2 separate regions of the Homo sapiens genome follow, and region 2 is linked to region 1. The links come from fine-mapping of genetic effects on gene expression. Tissue or cell type: CD4 T cells. Region 1 holds a variant in brackets; the other region holds the start of a gene. All regions are shown on one strand. Distances are from middle to middle.

Region 1 (8,106 bases):
CTTATGTCACCTCCTAAGAGTAAGGGAAAATCTCTGGCTGCTGAAGCTGCTTATCCCTACTGTGGCCGTTCCGGGTTACCCACTTCTTCCTAATCCCAATTTGCCTTCCTTGTCTAGCTGCTAGGGGCTAGATGGCTCAAGGGATTTCTTTTGTTGATATTGCTGTTGGTGAGATTGCATTTTGCTTTGTCTTTCTCCTAACTCAAAACAGATGGAACAGGGAAATAAAGAATGGTTGATAATCCTAGTCACTTATCTTTGGTAAATTTCAAAGGGTAAGTGGAGGCAAATAAACAATCATTCAGTAAACAAGTATAGTTGTTTTTTTTTTTTTTTTGAGACAGAGTTTGGCTCTGTCACCCAGACTGGAGTGCAGTGGTGCCATCTCGGTTGACCACAACCTCCACCTCCCAGGTTCAAACCATCCTCCCAAGTAGGTGGGACTACAGGCGCATGCCACCATGCCTGGCTAATTTTTTTTTTTTTTTGTATTTTTGGCAGAGACAGGGTTTCCCCATGTTGCCTAGGCTGGTCTCGAACTCCTGGGCTCAAGCAATCCTCCTGCCTCAGCCTCCCAAAGTGCTGGGATTACAGGTATGAACCACCATGCCCGAACACAAGTACAGTATTTAATGCACATTAAGGAGGGCTTAAAATGATCCATATTAGGCTGGGCATAGTAGCTCATGCCTATAATCCCAGAACTTTGGGAGGCCCAGGCAGGTGGATTGCTTGAAGTCAGGAGTTCAAGACCAGCCTGGGTAACATGGTGAAACCCTGTCTCTAGAAAAAATTTTAAAATTAGCCGGGTGTGATGGTACACACCTGTGGTCCCAGCTACTCAGGAGGCTGAGGTGGCAGGATCTCTTGAGCCTGGGAGGTTGAGGCTGCTGTAAGCTGTGATTGGGACACTGCACTGCACTCCAGCCTAGGCAACAGAGTGACTCCCTATTAAAAAAAGAAAGAAAGAAGCAGAAGCAGAAGAAGAGAAGAAGAAGAGGTAGAGGAAGAGGAGGAAGAAGAGGAAGAAGAAGAGGAAGAGGAAGAAGAAAAGAAGAAGAAAGAAGAAGAAGAAAAGAAGAAGAAGAAGAAAAGAAGAAGAAAAGAAGAAGAAAAGAAGAAGAAAAGAAGAAGAAGAAGAAGAAGAAGAAGAAGAAGAAGAAGAAGAAGAAGAAGAAGAAGAAGAAGAAGAAGAAGAGGAAGAAGAAGAAGAGGAAAAGAAAGGAGAAGGAGAAGGAGAAGAAGGAGAAGGAGAAGAAGAAAAAGAAGACGACAAACAAAAAACCGAAATGCTTGGCCAGAAATAGAGTGGAGGCCATGTGACTGGAGCAGTGTGGCTGTGGGAGAGAGGAATGAGAAGACTTAAAAGAGGTGAGCAGGAGCCAGAACACCGGGGACTCTGTAGGCCATGGTAGGTGGCTTGATGGAATTCCAGGAACAAAGGAGAGTGGCCCAAGGGATGCCAGCAGGAAAGCCTTGTGATCTAATTTGCAATTGCAAAAGATTTCCCTGTCTTCTACATGGAGAATGAATTAGAATGCAGCAAGAGAAGATACACAGAAACTAGTCAGAGGAGGTATTGGGGTTGACCAGGTGAGAGATGGCAGAGGCTTGGCTAGGGTGATGATAGTGAAGGTAGGGAGATGTGAATGACATCAAGGACATGATCTGAAAGTGGGACTGACAGGGCCTGCTAATAGATTATGAAGAGTAAGAAGGAGAGAGAAATCAAGAATGCTGTCTTTGATTCTGTCCCGAACACATGCATCTCTACTCCCTTCTCCATCCCTAACCCCTTCCTCTGTCATCCACATCCCAAGAGTTTCCAGTCTCCCTGAGTCTTTGGTCAGAAAACCAATTTTCCTGGGCATTGGACAAAAATTTGTCTCCAGGATTTCAAACCAGCAGATATATCTCTTCTCCTTCTGCCTGGGACTGTGGACTCCTGAAATCTGTAAGTATTTTGCAAGTTCTCTTACCAGGACCACATTCTTGAGAAGAGGGTTCCTGTGACTCTGGGCCAAAGAAGTGCTGAGAAGGTAGTCCTCTTCAAATCACTCACAGCCCTAAACAGGTGAATCAGCCTCGACTGGCATGTGAATTTGTCCCACTGATTGAAAGAGTAGAAATTTATGCTAGTGGCAGGTGCCAACCAACAGTAGATTCAACATAAGAATTCAGAAAGGCAAACCTATGTGCATGTCATTATAAAAACAACTGTGACAACAAAAGGCACCAGTCCAATTTAAGACATAAGCTCCTAAGGAACAAATTTCCTAACAAGACTTCCTTGTTTGCTCTATGCAAATGTTGAGGCTTATTGCACATTTGACACAAAGACTAGACTTTATGTGAAAATTCACACAAACATTTCAATTGCCTAGTGGCTTGAAAACTAAAGGAGAGGTCTGTTGTGTATGTGTGGGGTGAGGGTGTGGCAGTGAACTGGGGCAACAGGCAGACCGTACAAAAAAGAGGGTGGATTTAATGGTGGCAAATGCCTGATCCTAACCCTTTCTCCCTGCCCCCAGGGTGAAGGATAATATGAGCCTTGCCATTCAGCAACTACACTAGAATAGAATTAATAGCACTTGTGCTGCCCAGAAAGCCATTCTCTGAACAGATGGCATTTCCCAGAAGGACTAAAGCCTAACAAGCCTGAGCTTAAATCCTGGAATTGGCTGGCTCACAATAACTATGAAGGAAGAAAAATCCCCTGTTTGGTTTGGCTTTCAGTCTCTCCTAGGCCAGGAATCAACGCTTCATGAACTGAGGAGATGGAAAGATAGAGCCTCTAATGTATACCAGATCGGGCCACAAAACCTTCTCAGCAATGGGCATACATCCTAGGCCTGGCTCTCTATAAATATCCGATGGCTCCTTGGGAAGGAAGCTGGACTGTCTCTCCAGTTCAGGCCCATTTCCTTTTCTGACACTTTCCAATGCCTTCACTGGAGGGCTGCCATGTAGCCTAAATGCTGGAATACCATGACCTGAAGCCTGTCTCCAAAGAGACTCTCAGAGGAAGGGAATGTCATCTCCTCATCAAATCCAATATATTAAGAAATGGCAGGGAGAATCTCAGTGAAGATGGATGTAGGGAGAAAGGTTATGAAAAAGAGAAGTCAACAGCTGAGTTCAAACCAATTCAGACCCTCTTTGGACAACCAGTGGGACTTCAGACACTCACCTGGGAACCTGATGGTATCTCATTGCTAACCTTACATGACTCACTTTCCAAGTGATGTCCATGCCCTTCACCAACATCTTTTAAGTGTCATTTACTTGTGTTTTGGGACCAAAGTGTTACAACTACATCTTCATATTTAATTGAAAAGGTTTATTTTTTTCTAAATCAGAACTGGCCTTTCAGTCAATGGCGTGACAACTTCCCTAAAACTAGTAAGGACAAGAAAAAAAATTTTTTTTAAGAGACAGTGTTGACAAAGAGACTCTGTCTCAAAAGAAAACAACAACAATAACAACAAACCAAAGAGACAGGATCTCACTCTGTCGCCCAGGCTAGAGTGCAGTGGTGTGATCACAACTCACTGTAGCCTCGAACTCCCAGACTCAAGCGATCCTCCCTCCTCAGCCTCTTAAGTAGCTAGGACTACAGGTACACATTCCCATGCCCAGCAAATATTTTATTTTTGGCGGGGAGAGATGGGGTCTCACTAGGCTGCCCAGGCTGGTCTTGTACTCCTGGGCTCAAGCGATCCTGTCACTGTGGCCTCCCAAAGTGCTGGGATTACAGGCGTGAGCAGCCACAGCACCGGACAGAAAATTTGATTTTAAATTTAATTTTTTTTTTTTAGAGACTGGGTCCCATTCTGTCACCCAAGCTGGAGTATAGTGGCACTGTCATATAGTTCACTGCACCCTAGACTACCTAGGCTCAAGAGATCCTCCCACCTCAGCCTCGAAAATGCTGAGGGGCGTGAGTCTCCACTCCCAGCTAAAACAGAAAATTCTAATAGGCTGGAGCCCCACAGCATTCTGATAATATCGTATGCACATAACAGGTGTAATCTGAGTCAGGCTGTCGGATCTAATCTCGTGCCTGGAGAGCAGAGATCTAGAAATCATGTCTTAGATTTGAATTTCACCTTTGCCATTGAGTTGTAGGACTTTATTTTCTTTGTTTTATTTATTTTTTGTTTTCTTTGAGTTGTAAGACTTTTGACAGGTCACCCCTTCTTTTTACTGCCCACTCACATAGATGAATTTAGAACAACCAGTTCGAAAACAGGTACGATGGCCAGGTGCAGTGGCTCACACCTGTAATCCCAGCACTTTGGGAGGCTGAGGCGAATGGATCACTTGAGGTCACGAGTTCGAGAACAGCCTGCCAACATGGTGAAACACCATCTCTACTAAAAATACAAAAATTAGCCAGGCATGGTGGTGTGCGCCTATAGTCCCAGCTACTCGGGAGGCTGAGGCACGAGAACCTGTAGAACCTGGATGGCAGGGGCTGCAGTGAGCCGAGATTGCACCACTGCACTCCAACCTGGTGACAGACAGACTCC[G/A]TCTCAAAAAAAAGGTATGGCAGGGGAGGCAACAACAACAAAAAAATAGACACAATTCTAGTTACCTAACACTGCATCATTCTGTGAGTGTCTTAAGGATTGCAGATGGGGGTTTGTGTAAATCACTTGCATTTGAATAAAACAGATATGCACATATGAAAAATTCACTTAGCAATAAGCAAAGATTTAATCTCTGATACAATTTTGAACAATATCCTGACAGTTCACAAATCTTTTTTTTTTTTTTTTTTTTTTTGAGGCGGAGTCTCGCTCTGTCGCCCAGGCTGGAGTGCAGTGGCGGGATCTCGGCTCACTGCAAGCTCCGCCTCCCGGGTTCATGCCATTCTCCTGCCTCAGCCTCCCAGGTAGCTGGGACTACAGGCGCCCGCCACTACGCCCGGCTAATTTTTTGTATTTTTAGTAGAGACGGGGTTTCACCGTTTTAGCCGGGATGGTCTCGATCTCCTGACCTCGTGATTCGCCCGCCTCGGCCTCCCAAAGTGCTGGGATTACAGGCGTGAGCCACCGCGCCCGGCCCACAAATCTTAAAAATTCACTGGTACATCTTGGTGGTCTGTTTTTCTGAGTCTTTCAGATCATTCAGTCTTGCACAAGCAGCAGCTGCAATCTACCGGGAGGGAGATTCTGCAATGGGAAACCACATTGCTCATGCTGGGCAAACAGACCTGTCATTTCTAGAGACCTGGAATGATCCTGCCTGCCTGGCTGCAAGGCAGGGAGGAAAGCAGCATTCATCTATTCAATAGCCTGGTGGATAAAACAACCCCATTGCCAGGTGTGGCGGCTCACGCCTGTAATCCCAACACTTTGGGAGGCAGAGGTGGGCAGATCACCTGAGGTCAGGAGTTCAAGACCAGCCTGGCCAACATGGTGAAACCCCCATCTCTACTAAAAATACAAAAATTAGCTGGGCATCGTGGTGGGTGCCTGTAATCCCAGCTACTTGTGAGGCTGAGGCAGGAGAATTGCTTGAACCCAGGAGACGGAGGTTGCAGTGAGCCGACATGATGCCACTGCACTCCAGCCTGGGCAACAGAATGAGACTCTGTCTCAAAACAAACAAACAAACAAACAAAAAAAACCATTGAAGTGGAGGTTTGGAGGACTTAGAGACTTAACTATCCTTTAAATTATAACTGAGAAGTTAAATTGGGTATGTTTTTAGAGAAATTTGACTTTCTCAGAAGGAAAGTGAAAAATATAAAATCCAGAGAGAAATACAAAGTATAGTCAGATCAGTAATTCTTAGCTTATTTTTTTTTTTTGCAGTCTGTCCTAAGGTGACATTTTGTGTGTTATTTGTTTATTGTTTATCATTTAGTTCTCTCACTAGAATGTAAGTGCTATGAGGGTAGGAACATGTGTATTTTATTTCCATATTTCCATTACATTACCTGGCCCTAGTAGAGTGCCTTCCATAAAATAAGCATTCAAAAAAAAATTGTTGAATGAATGAATAATGAATGAATGATTCAGACTTTTTCACGTCCTAGACCCCTTTTTAAAAAATCAGTGGAAGTGGCTGGGCACGGTGGCTCATGCCTGTTATCCCAGCACTTTGGGAGGCCAAGGCAGGTGGATCACCTGAGGTCAGCAGTTCAAGGCCAGCCTGACCAACGTGGTGAAACACTGTCTCTATTAAAAATACAAAAATTAGCTGGGCATGATGGTGGGCGCCTGTAATTCCAGCTACTCAAGAGGCTGAGGCAGGAGAATCGCTTGAACCCGGGAGGTGGAGGTTGCAGTGAGCTGAGATTGTGCCACTGTACTCCAACCTGGCCGACAGAGGGAGACTCCATCTCAAAAAAAAAAAAAATCGGTGGAAGTTATGATTCTTACCTTATCCCCAAAATACATATATTCAAAAATGTAAAATATATGTTATTATATTACATAATTTATACATATATAATTACAATACATATTATTACATTTTTATATCTATCTATCTATCTATCTCTAATTGAATCTTCTCATGCAAAGGTCCCAGTTTGCAAAAGACATTCCTGCTTCACCAATGGTATCTGTTATCCCTAAAAAGCACATAAACAAAAGCTCTGCTGTCATTCTCCTTGGAAAAAATCCTTTTTTTTTTTTGGTAGAGACTGGGTTTCCCTCTGTTGCCCAGGCTTGTCTCAAAGTCCTGGCTTCAAGCAATCCCCCAGCCTTGACTTACCAAAATAGGATTACAGGCATGAGCCACCACGCCCCAGCCCAGAGGAGCAATTCTGAAGAGGCTTAAGACTGGGACTTTTGGGTCTTCTGACTCCCAGGATAAAACATCTGACATTGGCTCTTAGAGACATATGAAAGGTCCTGGGTCATTCCAGACATGTGACCAGTAAAAGGAGCCCTTCGGTGAAAGGGAAGAGAAAAAAAACTCTAAATTTGGACTCAGAAAACTTGAGTTCTAACTCAGCTCTTGTGCCATACTGGCTGTAGAATCATAGCTAGGTAATGGACTTCTCTGAGCCTCAGTTTCCTCATGTGAATGAAGAGGTCTGGCCTAGGCCCAGCATTCCACATTACAGTATCATAACTTCTAAACCAGGCAAATGAAGGAGCGACAGAGCTTCAGATGAAACAGGATGTTACTATGTAGTTAAAATGTCCATTTTGTAGCAGTGCTCCCTTGCTATGAAAAGAGAGCATGACTTATGCTGAAGCACAAGAAACTTTAAGTAAGATAACAGAAAGGACTCTCAATAATATAAGGACTGTGAGACAGAGTCAGACATGTGGGTGCTTGCAGAATATCCCTCAGAAGGTGTAGTGGGATGAGGGCCAACATTCATCTCTCAGATGATCTGTTCTAGTATTTGCTGGAAAAAGATCCTCAAGTCCAGTTGCCTCCAAAATCCACCCACTCTTTGGGTCAGGCATGGTGGCTCACGCCTGTAATCCCAGCACTTTGGGAGGCCAAAGTGGGAGGATCACCTGACGCCAGGAGTTTAAGACCAGCCTGGGCAACATAGTGTGATCCCATCTGTAGAAAATATTACAGCTTTTTAAAAAAATTTTAAATCTGCCCACTCTCTGACCCTAGGAATATCCCTAGGCTTACGTTTTCCACAAATAAGATTTTATTTTATTATTTGAGACGGCGTCTCACTCTGTTGCCCTGGCTGGAGTGCAATGGTGCAATCTTGGCTCACTGCAACCTCTGCCTCTCGGGTTCAAGTGATTCTCCTGCCTCAGCGTCCTCAGTAGCTGGGATTACAGGTGTGCATCACCACGCCTGGCTAATTCTTGTGTTTTTCGTAGAAATGGGGTGTCACCATGTTGGCCAGGCTGGTCTCGAACTCCTGACCTCAAGTGGTCCGCCCGCATCAGCCTCCTAAAGTGCTGGGATTACAGGCGTGAGCCATTGCGCCTGGCCACCACAAATAAGACTTTAAGTGAAAAATTTCTACATTTATTCTAATGCTTTGGGAAAAAGTATTGATTGCCGTGGGGTATTTTCTTCTAGTCAGTTCTTTCACACAAAGAAATCTAGACGAAAGCGACATTGATTGGGCACCTCCCCGGCAGTTCTTTCCATGGGCCATCTTGT
Region 2 (8,106 bases), 470 kb after region 1:
CGGATCACCTGAGGTTGGGAGTTTGAGACCAGCCTGACCAACATGGAGATACCCCGCCTCTACTAAAAATACAAAATTAGCCTGGCATGGTGGCGCATGCCTGTAATCCCAGCTACTCCAGAGGCTGAGGCAGGAGAATCACCTGGGAGCCAGAGGTTGTGGTGAGCCAAGATTGCATCATTGCACTCCAGCCTGGGCAACCAAAAAAAAAAGTAAGAAGAAAGAAAGAAATAGATTGGTGGCTGCTTATGGCTGGGGGTGGGGAGGGGGAAATAGAAAAATGAGTGACTACTAATGGCTAGGGTTTTATTGGAGGGAGTGATGAAAATGTTCTAAAATGGTGACACAAGTTGCACAATTCTGTGAATAGACTAAACTACTGAACTATTATACACTTAAATGAATTGTATCATAGTGAAATATATGTCAATAAAGTCGTTACTTAAAAATCTGGAGTCACAGATCTTAGGTTTAAGAATGCCAAATATGGAAGTATATCTCTTGTGTTCAACTCATTTTTTTCCTTCTAGCTCTTTCTCCTTAAGAACCCAGTAAGCATTCACTAAAGGGCTAAGCCAAAAGACAGCTGAGCATGGCCGCACTATGCTGCCCCCTCCTGGGATCCCAAAGGATCTTCTGAACCCAAGCTTATGCACAGGACTTTTCCCTTCTCAAGAGATGTCCCTCTCCTAGTTAGCACTCACGCTCAGAAGATAAACCCTAAAGGACAAGGGTTTTTGTCTCAGGGCCAGCAATCAGTTCAACTTCTATTCGTGGCCTGTTCCCTTCTCTGAAGACCTCTGGACTCTGATGAAAAAATAAACCCTACCTTTTCCATCAGCCCCATTGACACACCCATACAAGCCAGAATTTCCAGAAGTGACTCTCATACCCGGTTACGCATTCTTCACAGTGAATGGAACAGACTCTTGTCCACCTGTGGACAGACCTTTTACTGGAACACAATGGGTAACAACACTTCAAGATCCAACTTAGGTCTCCTTCCTTCATAAGTGTTCCGCAATTTAGCAGTGTTTCAGTTGTTGAAAACCCATTTTCTCTTTTCAGGTTAGTATAGCCTTACCAGAAGATAAGGGGAAACTTTCTGGGGGACCACCCCTCACCCACAGTCAGTTCAGGAGCCTGTGATGGGGGCATCACCTCCAGCTCCAAGGATAGAACATATGACTGTTCTGACCAAGTTCATTGCACCATATCTCCCAAGCTCTTTCCCCTGCACCAGTGGGTTTCAAATTTGAATTGTAGCAAACAAAATCTGATACAAAACCCTGACATACATTTGTTTTAAACAAAGAAGAGTTGATGGTAGTAATATTTCTAAATCTCACCCTCTTGGCCTGCACTTGGATAGACACTATGTCCTGCACTGTGGGAAAAACAAAGGAATAGGACATGATGCCTGCCTTGAACACCTTGCAGTGGAGTTGGGGGCAAGAAACAAAAGCAAGAAAATTAATGATTAAATAATACTACATAATAATAGAAGAAATCTCACAGAGACTGCCGCTTATCAGAAGGGGGTTAGAGGCCTGCAGTTCAGCACTGAGCCTTTTGTTGCCTCTCTTCTTCTAAGCCCTACTCATTGTCTGATATTTAGCTTGGCTGTGACCTTCCCCAGTAAGACGTTTCTGGAACACCCTCCTGCCTCTTCACACACACACACACACACACACACACACACACCACCCCCTTCAGCCCAGATTAGAGCTCAGTGTTCCTGTAATATCTCTGTACAGTCTATCACTGCATTTACCATATTTTAAAACAACGTCTCCCCAACACTTCACAGTATAGGCTCTGAGTTTCATAACGGCACAGAGTGGATACTGTAAGAATGCAGTGAGACTCTCCCTACTCCATGCTCCTTTCTTCCATCTTTTGTTCCACAGATGTCAGCCCTACATCAGTCTGCAGGCTGCTCCTGTCTGCTCCAAATCCCTCCCCCAGTAAGTTTCTTGCACATCTAATCCCATCTTAGCATCTGCTTCTTGGTAGACACTAACAAATTATTATAAGGAATTACTTTGCACTACCATATTTATACAAAAAGTAGTTAGTTCATGCATTTAGAATATTGGTTTGTTGGTTGACAATGTTAAGCCTAATGACCTATACCTTTTGGGTACTGACATACTTAATTTTGCACTTATTAAACTGTGACTTTCCAAAAAAAAAAAAAACTTTCATTGTACCATTAGGATATAATATTCTTGTTAATATTACAAAAACCAAACCAAAACAAAAACCATGCTGCAGCCTTAGGAGAACTTGCTTCATGTAACTAAGGGTTTTTCTTTTTCTTTTCTTTTTGTATTTTTTTTTCCTGTAGGATAACATAGTGTTAAAAGCACAAGCTTCTGGACTACTTGAAATCAAACCACAGCTTAACCAGCTCTATGGCTTTTGGCAAATTACTTCAACTCTTTAAACCTGTTTCTGATCTGTAAAATGGAATGATCCTTGCTCATCTGTAATATATACATTTATAAAACAGGACCCACCAATGGGATTATTTTATGAATTAAATGTTAAAACAGCTAGAACGGTGCAGGCTGAGTAAGCACTGAACACAGTACTTATTAGCTATTATCTCTGGTGCTCTGTGCAACGAAAGAACTATTAGAATACATTTAAAAGCACTTTGCAAACTAGAAAGCCCTTTGAACAATTTAGTTTCTCTAAATGTAATAATAAGCATCAGCCATCGCCTTTTATGGAAAATTGAGGTGGAATCACATCAGCAAGAGAAAACTGAGGACTTGTCTCTGGCTCTGTTCCTGATTTATTCACACAGTACATGATCCTAGAATAAGACTCCTGATACTCCTGAAAGTAGAGGCGGTTGGGTTAAAAATAATTTTCCCTTTCAAAACTCTTTCAAATGTTCTCCAAAAGAAGCCAGGAAAGCTCCCGTATGAGTAGATAATTCACTTTAAAATTCGCTCATCTCTCTTTAACACGAGAGTCTGCAGGGCTGGTGCAGCGGCGTCAACCCGAAGAGACCTGAACGCCGATGGGCAGTTGGGATTCTCCGTACGCCTCGGAAACAGCAGCCCAAACCTCACAACGCAGAACCACGAGATAGTGGGGATTGCAGAGCCCTGCGCAAGAGAAGGAAAATTAAGACGCAGCGGAGCCCAGGAGGTGCCCGCACGCGGGAAGGACTGGCGTGCAGACGAGGCAGGGGGAGGTTTGCACTCGGCGTGGCGCGGGTGAGCCGCGTGCTCTCGGGCACCCGGCCGCCAGTTCGGATGCTTCCGATCCTCGGGGAGCCGGGGCGCTGCGCCGGAGTCACTTCAGCCCATGTTGTTCAGGTGACACCCGGGGAAGAGCAGACTCCAGTGTGCAAAACGTTTCGGGGTTTCCGGGCCAGCGGTTCCGGGCGCGCCTCGCGGGCGGCGGCGCAGAACTACAACCCCCAGGCTCCCTGGCGTGGCGGCACGTGGGCCCGAGCCGGGCGGCCGCGGATATAAAGCGCGGCGGCGGCTGCCGGGCGGAGCGGCTGCACGGACAAGAGCGGAGGCCTGGGTGAGCGCGGCCCGCGACGGCACGGGCTAGGACAGACGGACGCAGACGGCCCGACGACCTGGGCGTTCGGGCGGAGGGGCGCTGGGGCCTGACTCGCGGGTGGGTGAGACGTTGACGGACCCGGAGGAAAGAGGGAAGGCAGATACGCTGGGAAACGGATCTGGGGAAGGTGTGAATGCGAAAAGTGTAGGGACAGACGGGGGCAGAAGAACTTACTCCCCCGGATTGTTTGCAGACAGCATATCTGCCGGGTCTCCAAAGGTCCTTTCCTCAAAATAGAGTTAGCAATTGAGCAGAAGAGAGCTTAAAGTTAAACCTGATACATCCCCCCTTCACTTGAGGAGAAATTGGTGGTTTTCTGCTTTTTTAAAAATCCCTATTTGTATCTCCTCTTCTCCGAGTACCTGTCCCTCAAGATATTCTCTGCCCAGAGGTACATTCTGCCCTCACTTTCTGTCTCTTAAAAAAACAACTTTGCCATTTAAAAAAGAATTTGACTTAGGCAGCTTTAATTCTTTGCACTGAGTGTTCTTATCTGTGGATGGAGGTATAAGATTTCAAGAGTAATACCCCCTCCCAATGTTTCAGTAATAATCTAAATTCACATTAAGCCTTAGGCTGGAGAACATTTGAGCTATTCGCTTTAGCTACGAGCTCTGAAAACTTCAAAGCATAACATTCCCAAGTTTATCTAAAACTTGAATCTTAAAAATAATGATAATTATCTGTTATGCTTCAAAGCATAACATTCCCAAGTTTATTAAAAACTTGAATCTTAAAAATACTGATCATTCTCTGTTAAAGTCTTTTGTTGTTGTTGTTGTTGTTGTTGTTGTTGTTGTTGTTGTTGTTTTTGAGACGGAGTCTCGCTCTTGTCGCCCAGGCCGGACTGCAGTGGCGCTATCTCGGCTCACTGCAAGCTCCACCTCCCAGGTTCACGCCATTCTCCTGCCTCAGCCTCCCGAGTAGCTGGGACTACAGGCTCCCGCCACCACGCCCGGCTAATTTTGTATTTTTAGTAGAGACGGGGTTTGGCCATGTTGGCCAGGCTGGTCTCGAACTCCTGACCTCAGGTGATCCGCCCACCTCGGCCTCCCAAAGTGCTGGGATTACAGGCTTGAGCCACCGCGCCCGGCCAAAGTCGTTTTTATCCCATTTCTTCCTGTAGGCGTTTCAAAGTTTGCAAAGGCAGCAAACTTTTACGTAGTGTAGTTATCTGTGCAAAGAAATTTTCCAAGCTGCCATTGCCCCCAGATGGCAGACAGTCTAGGAGAGGAGCCAAAACCACCCTGCTTAATAACTCTGATGTAAGGTTTTTAATGAAAAGCCACTGTTTGGGGGAATTCTGAGGTTTAAGAAATTATTTTCGGCTGGGGTATCAGGAAATCCCCTGGTTTTTAAAATGAGAGGTTTTTTGGTTTTTGTTTGTTTTTGTTTTTAAGCTATACCTGCTGGAATGGATAAAGTGAGCTTTAAAAGTTGATCAGACCGAAGAGATTGAAGTGAGAGAACCACAGGAACAAAGGCAAGCAGACAGACAGTGAAAGGTAGATAGGAGGAACAGCAAACAGTTTGTTCAGCTGGGCAAGTATAGTGCAGGCACGAAGATTTCAATAGAGACCCAGACCCCAGGGAGCTGGTTCTTTAGCCTACTGGCATTTTCTAAACAGGACAAAGACAAGACCAGAAATGCTGGTGTTACTGGAAGATTAATCTGACAGCTGGTGTGGATTGAAGAAGAGAAGAGGGATTAGGACAGTGATTCCTAACCCCTATCCTACACTCCCAACGGCCCCTTGTTTTGAATTTTTGAACTAATCAAACTACATTTGTGGTAATTAGTTTTATTTCTTTCCATTAAAGACATATAAAACTGCCAATTTGAGCTTCTGATGATTCTAAGAACATCAGTGTTACCGTCCTTAGTATCAAATAAATGCAGGCAAAAGCACAAGACTACGGAGTTTTATTTAGCCTGAACAGCCTAGTAGTGTTGGATTTAGGAGGTGTTTAATGCTGACTCAAGCTCTCAGGACTCTTATCACTTGAACCTTCTTGGGCCCTGTGGACCTGGGGTTTTGCCTATTTGTCTAGATAAGAGGTAACGAAGGGAAAAATTATAAAGGCGAAAGGAGGAATAGCAGGGGAAGAAGATAACAGAATTGAAATGACTTAGTCCCTAAATAGACAAGAGTAGTGAGTGTTGGAAAGGAGGCACTAGCAGAGCAGAGATGACTGGGAAGATGATGCTGGTAAGGGCATGATAGTATTTTCTACTGTCCTATACACATCAGGCAAGACTTCATGGAGAGCACTGAACACGTACTCACTATGTGCCTAGCATTGTTGTTAATCACTTTACATGAATTAGTTCATTTAATTCTCTCAACCCTATGAAATATAATTACTATTATCCTCATTTACAGAAGGGGAAACTGAAGCAGAAAGAGGTTACTTAATGGGCTCAAGGTCACCTACCTGGTAAGTGGTGGAGCCAGGATGCAGATCCATGAGGTCTGACTCCAGAGCTGGCCCTCTCACCCCTCTACAGTAAGGAACAAAGGAGATGGCAGGTCCCTTTGGGCATGTTAAGTTGAGATGTTTGTGGGAGTGCTAGGTGAAGATATACAGCAGGCATAGCATCAATCTCCTTTGATACTTAAACATCCCTCCAGTGGGGAGATGGCTTAGGTTATGGGCCTTTAAGGCTCAGAGGCTAAGTGGCCTGCTTATTGTACTGAGGGTGGTCACATGAAGCTCAAAGAGTGATTAGAGCCACATCTTATGATTTATTATCTTGTGTTTTCCCATGGGCCAGGTTATTGGATTCATCTTTCTAAACTTCCAATCTGCTTTTAGTCTCATGTTTGAACTAGGAAATACAGAGCAAAGCTACATGCAGGACTTGGTCTTGATTTTAGGAGCAACTCTTGCTGAGAACATGTCTGTTTGCAAGGAAAGTATCGTGTTGTCTTTCTACTGAAAACAGTCAGTGTTTCTCAAGGGCTTACCTGAGCCAAGACTCTTGGGGAAGAAAAATAGAAGATATGGTCTCTGTACTTCAGAAGTTTATTCTCCTATTTGGGAAGATAAGATGAACAATTAGAAGAGCAAACAAAACAAGATAGCTTATAACTAAGTACTACATTATGTGGGTTAGATTTAAGTATAGTGGGCATTGCATTTTTGAATGTGCCAGTAATGTCAGAACTATAGCATAACCCTTCTTGTTGGTCACCTACAGACATCACTTTATTTGCTACAAGACCACTATCTTTTGTAGAATTGTCATCAAATACTATCTGATTATATTTTATTTTCATTTTCAATTGTTAGACATTAAATTTGTGGTCTGAAATTGCATTTGTGGCTTTTTATGTCTTATAGCTCAAAAAACAATAATGCTTCTAGAACTAGCAAATGTCAGAGCTGTGAGTTGAACCAGGTGGTCTGCCTATGGAACTGAGGCTGTTAACCAGTCTGCTCTGTTGCTTCTTGTGGCCCATCCAGAGTCTTTTACACTGATTATGGGCAGGTACACTCTCTGCCAGATGGTGAGAGATCCTTTGGCCCCAAATGAGTGGTGTGAGTTGGACTCTTCCAGCAGTGCGCTACCCATCTGTGGAAGCCATCATCCAGTCACAGTCTGAACACCTCGTTCAGTCACCCACATATTCTTCGCTCTTGAATTGAACACCTGGTGTCAAGCAGAGGGCTCACTGCAGAGAGCAAAGGCAAATGAAACATCCCTGTCCTGGGAGCCTGCTGTAGTGGGGAAGAGGGAGGTGAATATGCAGTCTACATGGTTAACTAGAACTAGGAAAACTGGACAAAACTGGGCAAAATTAGGATATAAAAAGATAGGTAAATCTGAAGGTAGTTATGTAAATCATGATGAAACCTTAAGACAGGCTTGTTTTAGGTGAGATTCTAAGAATGAAGACAATGGAAAGAGAAAATGTCCCCTTTTATGACCATATTTCAGTTTAAGTAATAGTACAGTTGACCCTTGAATTACGTTGATTTGAAGTGTGCAGGTCCATTTACACAGATTTTTTTCAACCAAATACGGATAGAAAATCAGTATTTGCAGGATGCAGAATTCTCATATGCCAGGCTTGGGGCTGACTGTGTGACTTGAGTAGGCATGGATTTTGGTATACACGAAGGTCCTGGAACTGATCTTCTGTGTATACTGAGGCATGACTATAATTCACTGTATGTTTTACTTACCTGAGTTAGGTTCAAGCTCTTTCTTGGGTCTGCTGCTGTTAACCTCTATCCTTTGAGGTGTTAGATTGCTTCCATCATCTGTATAGCTAAAATGGGAGACTGTCCACGTAGTATTTTCTCAAGTCTACCCTCTCCTGTCTTAAAGTTTCCTCCTCAATAGAATTAAGCACTAAAATTTTACCATCTTGTACTTGCTCTGTGTGTTTGTGTACTTGTAAGCACATTTTACAGTTCTAAACTAGAAATGGACTTTGCCTGGGAGTTTTATCATTGACATTCCTTGAAGAAAGAGAGAAATTACATTGTATGTTTTCCAGACCTACC

Direction of the effects. Alleles are on the strand shown, and positions count from the first base shown. SD is a standard deviation of normalised expression in the study named.
As copies of G replace A in region 1, the expression in CD4 T cells of the gene that starts at base 3,517 in region 2 goes down (large effect, 1.9 SD a copy in BLUEPRINT).

The links. PIP is the estimated chance that this variant, and not a neighbour inherited with it, causes the effect.
Region 2: it holds the start of NPL, and the variant in region 1 is fine-mapped to the expression of NPL in CD4 T cells (BLUEPRINT, PIP 0.95).

What each region holds. Positions count from the first base shown.
Region 1 is chr1:182,315,433-182,323,538 of GRCh38, forward strand. No RefSeq gene overlaps it. Among named protein-coding and RNA genes, the nearest start is that of LINC01344, 5.4 kb to the left of the region's middle. The variant G/A (reference allele first, on the strand shown) is at 4,533.
Region 2 is chr1:182,786,257-182,794,362 of GRCh38, forward strand. It overlaps NPL (N-acetylneuraminate pyruvate lyase), which reads left to right and starts at 3,517. Exons shown (of 13, transcript NM_030769.3): 1 at 3,517-3,549; 2 at 5,976-6,030; 3 at 8,100-8,106. RefSeq lists an enhancer at 3,170-3,670.